Homo sapiens: one gene and its partner. The protein of the gene in region 1 interacts with the protein of each later gene in a biochemical or structural test. Each region holds a gene or a part of one and is shown in the gene's direction. Other genes may lie near its edges.

Region 1 (3,540 bases):
ACTCCTAACCTCAGGTGATCCACCTGTCTTGGCCTCCCAAAGTGCTGGGATTACAGGGATGAGCCACCACGCCCAGCCAACATTTGTTTTAATACCTTTATCATGTTTTTTTGAACATTGAGCCTTCCATTAAGTTTGGAATTGCCTGTCAAATCCTACACCAATTCAATTGTTTTGTTAGGATTTCTTTTAAAAATATCAACACTGGCTGGGTACAATGGCTCACGCCTGTAATTCCAGCACTTTGGGAAGCTGAGGTGGGCAGATTACTTAAGGCCAGGAGTTCAAGATGAGCCTGGCCAACATGGTGAAACTCCATCTCTACTAAAAATACAAAAATTAGCTGGGCGTGGTGGCACACGCCTGTAGTCACAGCTACTTGTGAGGCTGAAGCAGGAGAATCGCTTGAACCCGGGAGGCGGAGGTTGCAGTGAGCTGAGATCGTGTCACTGCACTCCAGCCTGTGCGACAGAGCGAGACTCTGTCTCAAAAAAAAAAAAAAAAAATTAACACTATTTTAGTTATACTTACAAACAGTATTTGTTAGATATTCTTATTAGTAGACATATTTTAATATTTTCTTTGCAAATCAGTTTCACACACATTAGTACTTCCCAAATTTCCCACCAAAGTATTCTGGTAGCAAAAGGGGAATTAAACTCTGAAAGGTTAGTATGCTGGAGGTATGAGGTATGGATGGCCTTAGAGTTGTGAGGCAGCTGGTCACACCTGCTCCTGAGCCGCCATGTATTTAGTTCTAGAGAAAAAAGTCTAAATGGTTAAAGTAATAAAAATAAATTTTAGGCCAGGTGCGGTGGCTCACGCCTATAATCCCAGCACCTTGGGAGGCTGAGACGGGTGGATCATGAGGTCAGGAGTTCGAGACCAGCCTGACCAACATGGTGAAAGCCTGTCTCTACTAAAATTACAAAAATCAGCCTGGCATGGTGGTGGCACCTGTAATCCCAGCTACTGAGGAGACTGAGGCAGAAGAATTGCTTGAACCCCGGAGGCGGAGGTTGCAGTGAGCCGAGATCACACCACTGCACTCTAGCCTGGGTGACAGAGTGAGACTCTGTCTCAAAAAAAGAAAAAAAAAAAAAATCAACTAAAAATAAATTTTAGGCCAGGTGCAGTGGCTCACGCCTGTAATCCCTGCACTTTGGGAGGCCAAGACGGGGGTGTCACCTGAGGTCGGGAGTTTGAGACCAGCCTGACCAACATGGAGAAACTCCTTCTGTACTAAAAATACAAAATAGCCGGGCATGGTGGTGGGTGCCTGTAATCCCAGCTACTCGGGAGGCTGAGGCAGGAGAATCACTTGAACTGGGAGGCAGAGGTTGTGGTGAGCCGAGATCGTGCCATTGCACTCCAGCCTGGGCAACAAGAGTGAAACTCCGTCTCAAAAAAAAAAAAAGAAAAAAAATTTAAAGAGTTAATGTTTATTGAATTATTAACTTGTGTCAGAAATTTTAAGCATTTTTCTATATGCTTTCCATATTTACAGTGGCCCTAAGTGGTATACATAATTTTGTTATGAGATATATCAATTATTTATAGATTTCAGCTGAGATAGAATATATGCTTCAGTAATAGGAATAATCAAAAGCTGACTATCATGTTACTTAGTGCGGAATAATGTATTTCAGTTTTTAGCTAAGTTATATGGATAGATTTTCAAACTCAGTACCAACCCAGCTTCTCCTAACTGAGTAAATTAGAGGCATGCAATCTGATGGTCTTGGTTGCCACTTTAGGCAGAGTATATATACCACCCCCCACCCACTCCTTCCACACCCACCCACTCTTTCCTTCTTTCCTACTTTATCAGGTGAAGACATTCAGTGAAGCTTGCCTGATGGTAAGGAAACCAGCCCTAGAACTTCTGCATTACCTGAAAAACACCAGTTTTGCTTATCCAGCTATACGATATCTTCTGTGTATCCTTTCCTGCCTGCGTGGACCCTCATGAACCAATGCTTTCTCCCCTCAAATAAGGCAACAGAAGAAATGAAAAAAAGTACTGTTGAGGCCGGGCATGGTAGCTCACACCTATAATCCCAGGAGTTTGGGAAGCCGAGGCAGGCGTATCGCCTGAAGTCAGGAGTTCAAGACCTGCCTGGCCAACATGGCGAAACCCCGCATTTACTAAAAATGCAATATATTAGCCGGGTGTGGTAGCGTGCACCTGTAATCCCAGCTACTTGGGAAGCTGAGGCAGGAGAATCGCTTGAACCCGGGAAGCGGAGGTTGCTGTGAGCTGATATCAAGCCACTGCACTCCAACCCCATCTCAAAAAAACAAAACAAAGCATAACTACTGTTCACATACAAGTGATCCTTCCAGTCATGTTTTCTTTAACAACATATACTTTAGATGGAGAGAAGGGAACAGGAAAAACCCTAAGTCTTTGCCATGTTATTCATTTCTGTGCAAAACAGGACTGGCTGATACTACATATTCCAGATGGTAAGAACTTCCTGTTGTTTCTTCTGTCTGTTAGGTTTAGTTATCCTGTTACTGTGGTAGCCTTGCAGCTTTAATTTTCTTTTCTTTTCTTTTCTTTTTTTTTTTTTTTTTGAGATGGAGTTTCGCTCTTGTCGGCCAGTCTGGAGTGCAGAGGCGCAATCTCAGGTCACCGCAACCTCCGCCTCCCAGGCTCAAGAGATTCTCCTGCCTCAGCCTCCCAAGTAGCTGGGATTACAGGCGCCCACCACACCACCACGCCCAGCTAATTTTTTTTTTTTTTTTTTTTTGAGACGGAGTCTTGCTCTGTCGCCCAGGCTGGAGTGCAGTGGCACGATCTCAGCTCACTGCAAGCTCCGCCTCCCGGGTTCACACCATTCTTCTGCCTCAGCCTCCTGAGTAGCTGGGACTACAGGCGCCCGCCACCATGCCCGGCTAATTTTTTTTGTATTTTTAGTAGAGACAGGGTTTCACCATGTTGGCCAGGCTGGTCTCGAACTCCTGACTTCAGGTGATCCACCTGCCTTGGCCTCCCAAAGTGCTGGGATTACAGGCATGAGCCATTGCACCCGGCCTCAGCTTTACTTTCCTAACAGGGATCTGATAGCTAAAGGAAAAGCCTTTGCCAGTCACGATGGCTCAAACCTATAATCCCAGCACTTTGGGAGGCTGAGGCTGGAATATTGCTTAGAGCCCAGGAGGAGGCTGCAGTGAGCTGTGATCGCACCACTACACTCTAGCGTGGGCAACAAAGCAAGACCCTGTCTCAAAAAAAAAAAAAAAAAAGAAGAAGAAGAAAAGCCTTTACTCCAGATGTAGAGCAGACTGAGCTCATCCATCATGATTTCTTCGTGATATTACTGCCAAGCAGATTATAAGGTGAAGTCAATGTGACAAAAGGAAATTCGGCTAAAAGCTTCCTGAAGCCTTTTGATGCTAAGCAGTCCTTCTTTTGATATTTAATACCCATGGACATAAACTTCTGCCTTAGAGGTCGCCATGGAGTTTTGTTTTGTTTTGTTTTGTTTTGTTTTTGCCATCTGTTAACAGTCCTGAGTACCCATAGAGCCTTTT
Region 2 (4,659 bases), on another chromosome or scaffold:
CTGGCCAAGAGAATCTACGAGGCCTACTTGAAGAACTTCAACATGAACAAGGTCAAAGCCCGGGTCATCCTCTCAGGAAAGGCCAGTAACAATCCAGTAGGTGTTTGCGGCTGTTCTGGGTTCTCTTGGCAACATGGAACCAGTGTCGTAGAGGACGATTAAGGACACATGTGTTGAATGTTGAGAAAATTATATTTATCCCACAGTTAAGCAAAGGACAGCGAAGATGGAAACAGTTCATTCTGAGACTCTGAGCTGTAGCTTAACAACAACTCCTTTCTTCTTGCTTGGAGCCACCTCAAAGCTCTTAGCAACTAAGTTATTATACTGGCTATGTAATTAATACACTTAAAAAAAACCTTAATAGCTTACCAAGTACTAAGATGATTTCTTAGGAGCATTTTTTCTTAAATAGAGATAGGTTCTTGCTCTGTTGCCCAGGCTGGAATGCAGTGGTGCAATCATAGTTCACTGCAGCCTTGAACTCCTGGGCTCAAGCAATCCTCCTGCCTCAGCCTCCCAAGGAGCTGGGACTACAGGTGTGCACCACCACACCTGGCTATGTTTGATGTTGTTGTTGTTTTGTTTTGTTTTTGTTTTTTGGTAGAGATGAGATGTTTCCCAGGCTGGTCTCAAACTCCTGGCCTCAAGTGATCTTCCCACCTCGGCCTCCCAAAGCACTGGCATTACAGGTGTGAGTCATGGCACCCAGCATTAACTGGATTTAAAAAAAAAAAAACTGACCAGGCAAGATGGGTCATGCCTGTAATCCTGGCACTCTGGGGAGGCCAAGGTGGGCAGATTGCTTGAGTCCAGGAGTTTGATACCAGCCTGGCCAACATGGAGAAACCCCAACTCTACTAAAGATACAAAAATTAGCTGAGCAGGGTGGCACACACCTGTAATTCCAGCTACTTGGGTGGCTTAGGCATGAGAATTGCTTCAACCCGGGAGGCAGAGGTTACAGCAAGCTGAGATCATGCCACTGCACTCCAGCCTGGGTGACAGATCGAGACCCTATCTCAAAAAAAAAATAGAATAATAAAATAAATCCCTACTTTGAGGTGTATTAGTCTGCTATAAAGAAATCCCTGAGACCTGGTAATTTATAAAGAAAAGAGGTTTAATTGGCTCGTGGCCCACAAGGCTGTACAGGAAGCTTCTGCTTCTGGGGAGGCCTCAGGGAATTTGACTCATAGCAGAAGGTGAAGTGGGAGTAGGCGTCTTGCATGGCAGGAGCAAAAACAAGAGACACACACTTTTCACCCATCAGATCTTGTGAGAACGCTATCACTAGAGTAGCACCAAGAGGATGGTGCTAAACCATTCATGAAGGATCACCCCCATGATCCAGTCCCTCCCGCCAGGCCTCACCTCCACCACTGGGGATTACAGTTCACCATGAGATTTGGGTGGGGACACAGAGCCAAACCATATCATAAGGCTAGAAAAGGAAACCACTTACTTCCCACTCAAAATGTGCTCTTGGTCCTTTCTCCTAAAACTACTCCCTCCCTCTCAGACAAACATGCCTACATTCTTTTTCCGCCTTCAGTGAAAAGACAGTGACATCTTGGGGCTTAGAAAGGGCCACTTGTAAGCCAGGCGTGGTGGCTCACGCCTGTCATCCCAGCACTTTGGGAGGCCAAGACAGGCGGATCACGAGGTCAGGAGATCAAGACCATCCTGGCTAACATGGTGAAACACCATCTCCACTAAAAATACAAAAAATTAGCCGGGCGTGGTGGCGGGCGCCTGTAGTCTCAGCTACTTGGGAAGCTGAGGCAGGAGAATGGCGTGAACCCAGGAGGCAGAGCTTGCAGTGAGCCGAGATCGTGCCACTGCACTTCCAGCCTGGGCGACAAAGCCAGCTGTGTCTGGGCGCGGTGGCTCATGTCTGTAATCCCAGCACTTTGGGAGGCTGAGGTGGGTGGATCACTTGAGGTCAGGAGTTTGAGACCACCCTGGCCAACATGGTGAAACCCCATCTCTATTAAAAATACAAAAAATTAGCTGGGCATGGTAGCGGTTGCCTGTAATCCCAGCTACTTGGGAGGCTGAGGCAGGAGAATTGCTTGAACCTGGGAGCTGGAGGTTGCAGTGAGCTGAGATCGCACCACTGCACTCCAGCTTGGGCAACAGAGTGAGACTCTGTCTCAAAAAAAAAAAGAAAGGAAAAGAAAGGACCACTTGTTATAGAAAGCCTGTCTTTTAAGGTAGCTCTGGACCTTTTCAGAGGCAGCCAAATTGCCCCTCATGGTTCGTCCCCCACATCCCCGCCTGCCTGGCCTAAGTCCTCCTTCCCCCTCCCCAACAGTTAAATAAGTCTTTGTCTCCATTACAAAACAAATCTCAGAGCTACCTTCAAAGAAGAGCCAGCCCTCAGTTGGTGAATGAAGATACTTTGACATTTTCCTATGAGCATGGTGAAACAGGTTTAATTTGTATTAAATAGCTTGAAGCAATCCTTATTGGGAATTACAAGGTGGAATTTTAGTCACAGGAAAATAAAGCATTTCACAAGCTACTTACTTTCATGAACAAACCAAACCTCTTCTTTACTGAGTCCTTTAATTCTTCAGTGAATTCTCCAATTAAATAGGCCGAGACATTTTAGAAGTTTCCAGCAGACACCCACACTAGGCAGCTCCAGAGGCTTGTCCCAATTAGAACTTTCCTGGATTACGAGAGTGAAAGAAAAGGTAACTTTTAGCTTCGAGTCTCTATCCTGGATATGATTAGTACAGCCCAAAATTGGGATGGCTAAAACTTTTGTTTGCCAGCTTATATTTCTCCCTTGGATTTCAGAATTGAAAGCAGGCTGGGCACAGTGGCTCACACTGTAATCCCAGCACTTTGGGAGGCTGAGGCGGGAGGATCACTTGAGGCAATCCAAGAGTTTGAGACCAGGCAACACAAGGAGACCTCGTCTCTACAAAAAATGATTTTTTAAAAAACTAGCTGGGCATGGTGGCATGTGCCTGTGGTCCCAGGTACTTGGGAAGCTGAGATGGGAGGATGGCTTGAGCCCAGGAGTTCAAAACCAACCTGGGCAACATGGCAAGACCACATCTCTACAAAAAATAAAAACATTATCCAGGCATGGTGGCACATGCCTATAGTCCCCGCGACTTGGGAGGTTGAGGAGGATGCCTTGAGGCCAGGAGTTCAAGGCTGCAGCGAGCCACGATCGCGCCACTGCACTCCAGCCTAGGCGACAAAGCGAGACTCTCTAAAAAAAATTCGAAGCAGAGTTAAGTTGTCTTTCTTCCTAACAACCTGCCCCCACCATGGGGTGCGAATGGGACTCCTGGAGTCCTCCTGCACCTCCCCTTGGAGACCACCAAGCTCTAGGAACCCCATCACCCTCAGCTGAGGGTCACATGCAGCAACTAGCAGGCGGGAATCTGTTTGCATTTTGGCCTTAAAGAAATAAATAATAGGCCAGGCGCGGTGGCTCATGCCTGTAATCCCAGCACTTTGGGAGGCTGAGGCAGGTGGATCACCTGAGGTCAGGAGTTGGAGACCAGCCTGACCAATATGGTGAAACCCCGTCTCTACTAAAAATACAAAAATTAGCTAGGCATGGTCGTGGGCACCTGTAATCCCAACTACCCAGGAGGCTGAGGCAGGAGAATTGCTTGAACCTGGAAGGCAGAGGTTGCAGTGAGCCGAGATCACACCACTGCACTCCAGCCTGGGTGACAGAGCGAGACTCCATCTCAAAAAAAAAAAAAAAAGAGGGCCAGGCGTGGTTGCTCATGCTTATGCCTGTAATCCCAGCACTGTGGGAGGCAGAGGAGGGCGGATTACCTGAGCTCAGGAGTTCGAGACCAGCCTGGGCAACATGGTAAAACCCCATCTCTACTAAAATACAAAAAATTAGCCGGGCATGGCAGTGTGCGCCTGTAGTCCCATCTATTCGGGAGGCTGAGGCAGGAGAATGGCGTGAACCTGGGAGGTGGAGGTTGCAGGGAGCCGAGATCACACCGGTGCACTCCAGCCTGGGTGACAGAGTGAGACTCCATCTCAAAAAAAAAAAAAAAGAAAGAAATGATAGATGAATAGTTTAGGATTGGGGTTCACAATTTGGTTTTCTGTAGAAAAAGAGAACCGGGCACTCTTCCGAGAGTCAGATGCCCTCTTCCACCCACACCCACAAAGCCAGAGCACCGCAGGTACCAGTTTTCAAGGCAACCTCCAACCATCATGTGACTCTTTGTGTTTGATCACACTGTTTGCTCCAAGCCAGGGTTGCGTCCCACCCCATGTCCTTGTCTGCGCACGGGACGCTGGAGGCACGGCCCCCTCCTCCCTGCCTAGCCTGCTGACGGGCTTTCCAGAGCTGGCTCCTTCAGGTGCAGGATACCCTCTCTGCTTAGTCTGGGAAAAGGCCCCGTTGGCAGGATGCCCACCACCAGGCCACACTGCCTGAATCTATTGGCAGAGCTCTGGTTTTGTGGCCAAGGTGGGTAGTGGAAGACCATAGCCTGTGTCCCTTACACATCTCAGAAAGCAACCCCATCTGTGGGCAAGAAATCTGTTAGGGAGACCAAGCAGCGGCCTGGAAACACCTTGATCTCTGCCCAGTGGCCCACATGCGGTCGCCGTTTCATCAGTTTCCAGCCTGGGTGACCTCACAGCCCCAGCCACGCCCCA

The links. The genes of interacting proteins can lie anywhere in the genome.
Region 2: the proteins of DAP3 (region 1) and PPARA form a complex in vitro, tested with the Homo sapiens proteins (one study listed by BioGRID).

Annotation. Positions count from the first base shown.
Region 1 is NC_000001.11:155,723,551-155,727,090, forward strand, and holds part of DAP3 (small ribosomal subunit protein mS29), read left to right. Parts: intron 1-1,831; coding exon 1,832-1,940; intron 1,941-2,376; coding exon 2,377-2,469; intron 2,470-3,540. UniProt on the Homo sapiens protein: As a component of the mitochondrial small ribosomal subunit, it plays a role in the translation of mitochondrial mRNAs. Involved in mediating interferon-gamma-induced cell death. Displays GTPase activity in vitro.
Region 2 is NC_000022.11:46,219,919-46,224,577, forward strand, and holds part of PPARA (peroxisome proliferator-activated receptor alpha), read left to right. Parts: coding exon 1-96; intron 97-4,659. UniProt on the Homo sapiens protein: Ligand-activated transcription factor. Key regulator of lipid metabolism. Activated by the endogenous ligand 1-palmitoyl-2-oleoyl-sn-glycerol-3-phosphocholine (16:0/18:1-GPC). Activated by oleylethanolamide, a naturally occurring lipid that regulates satiety.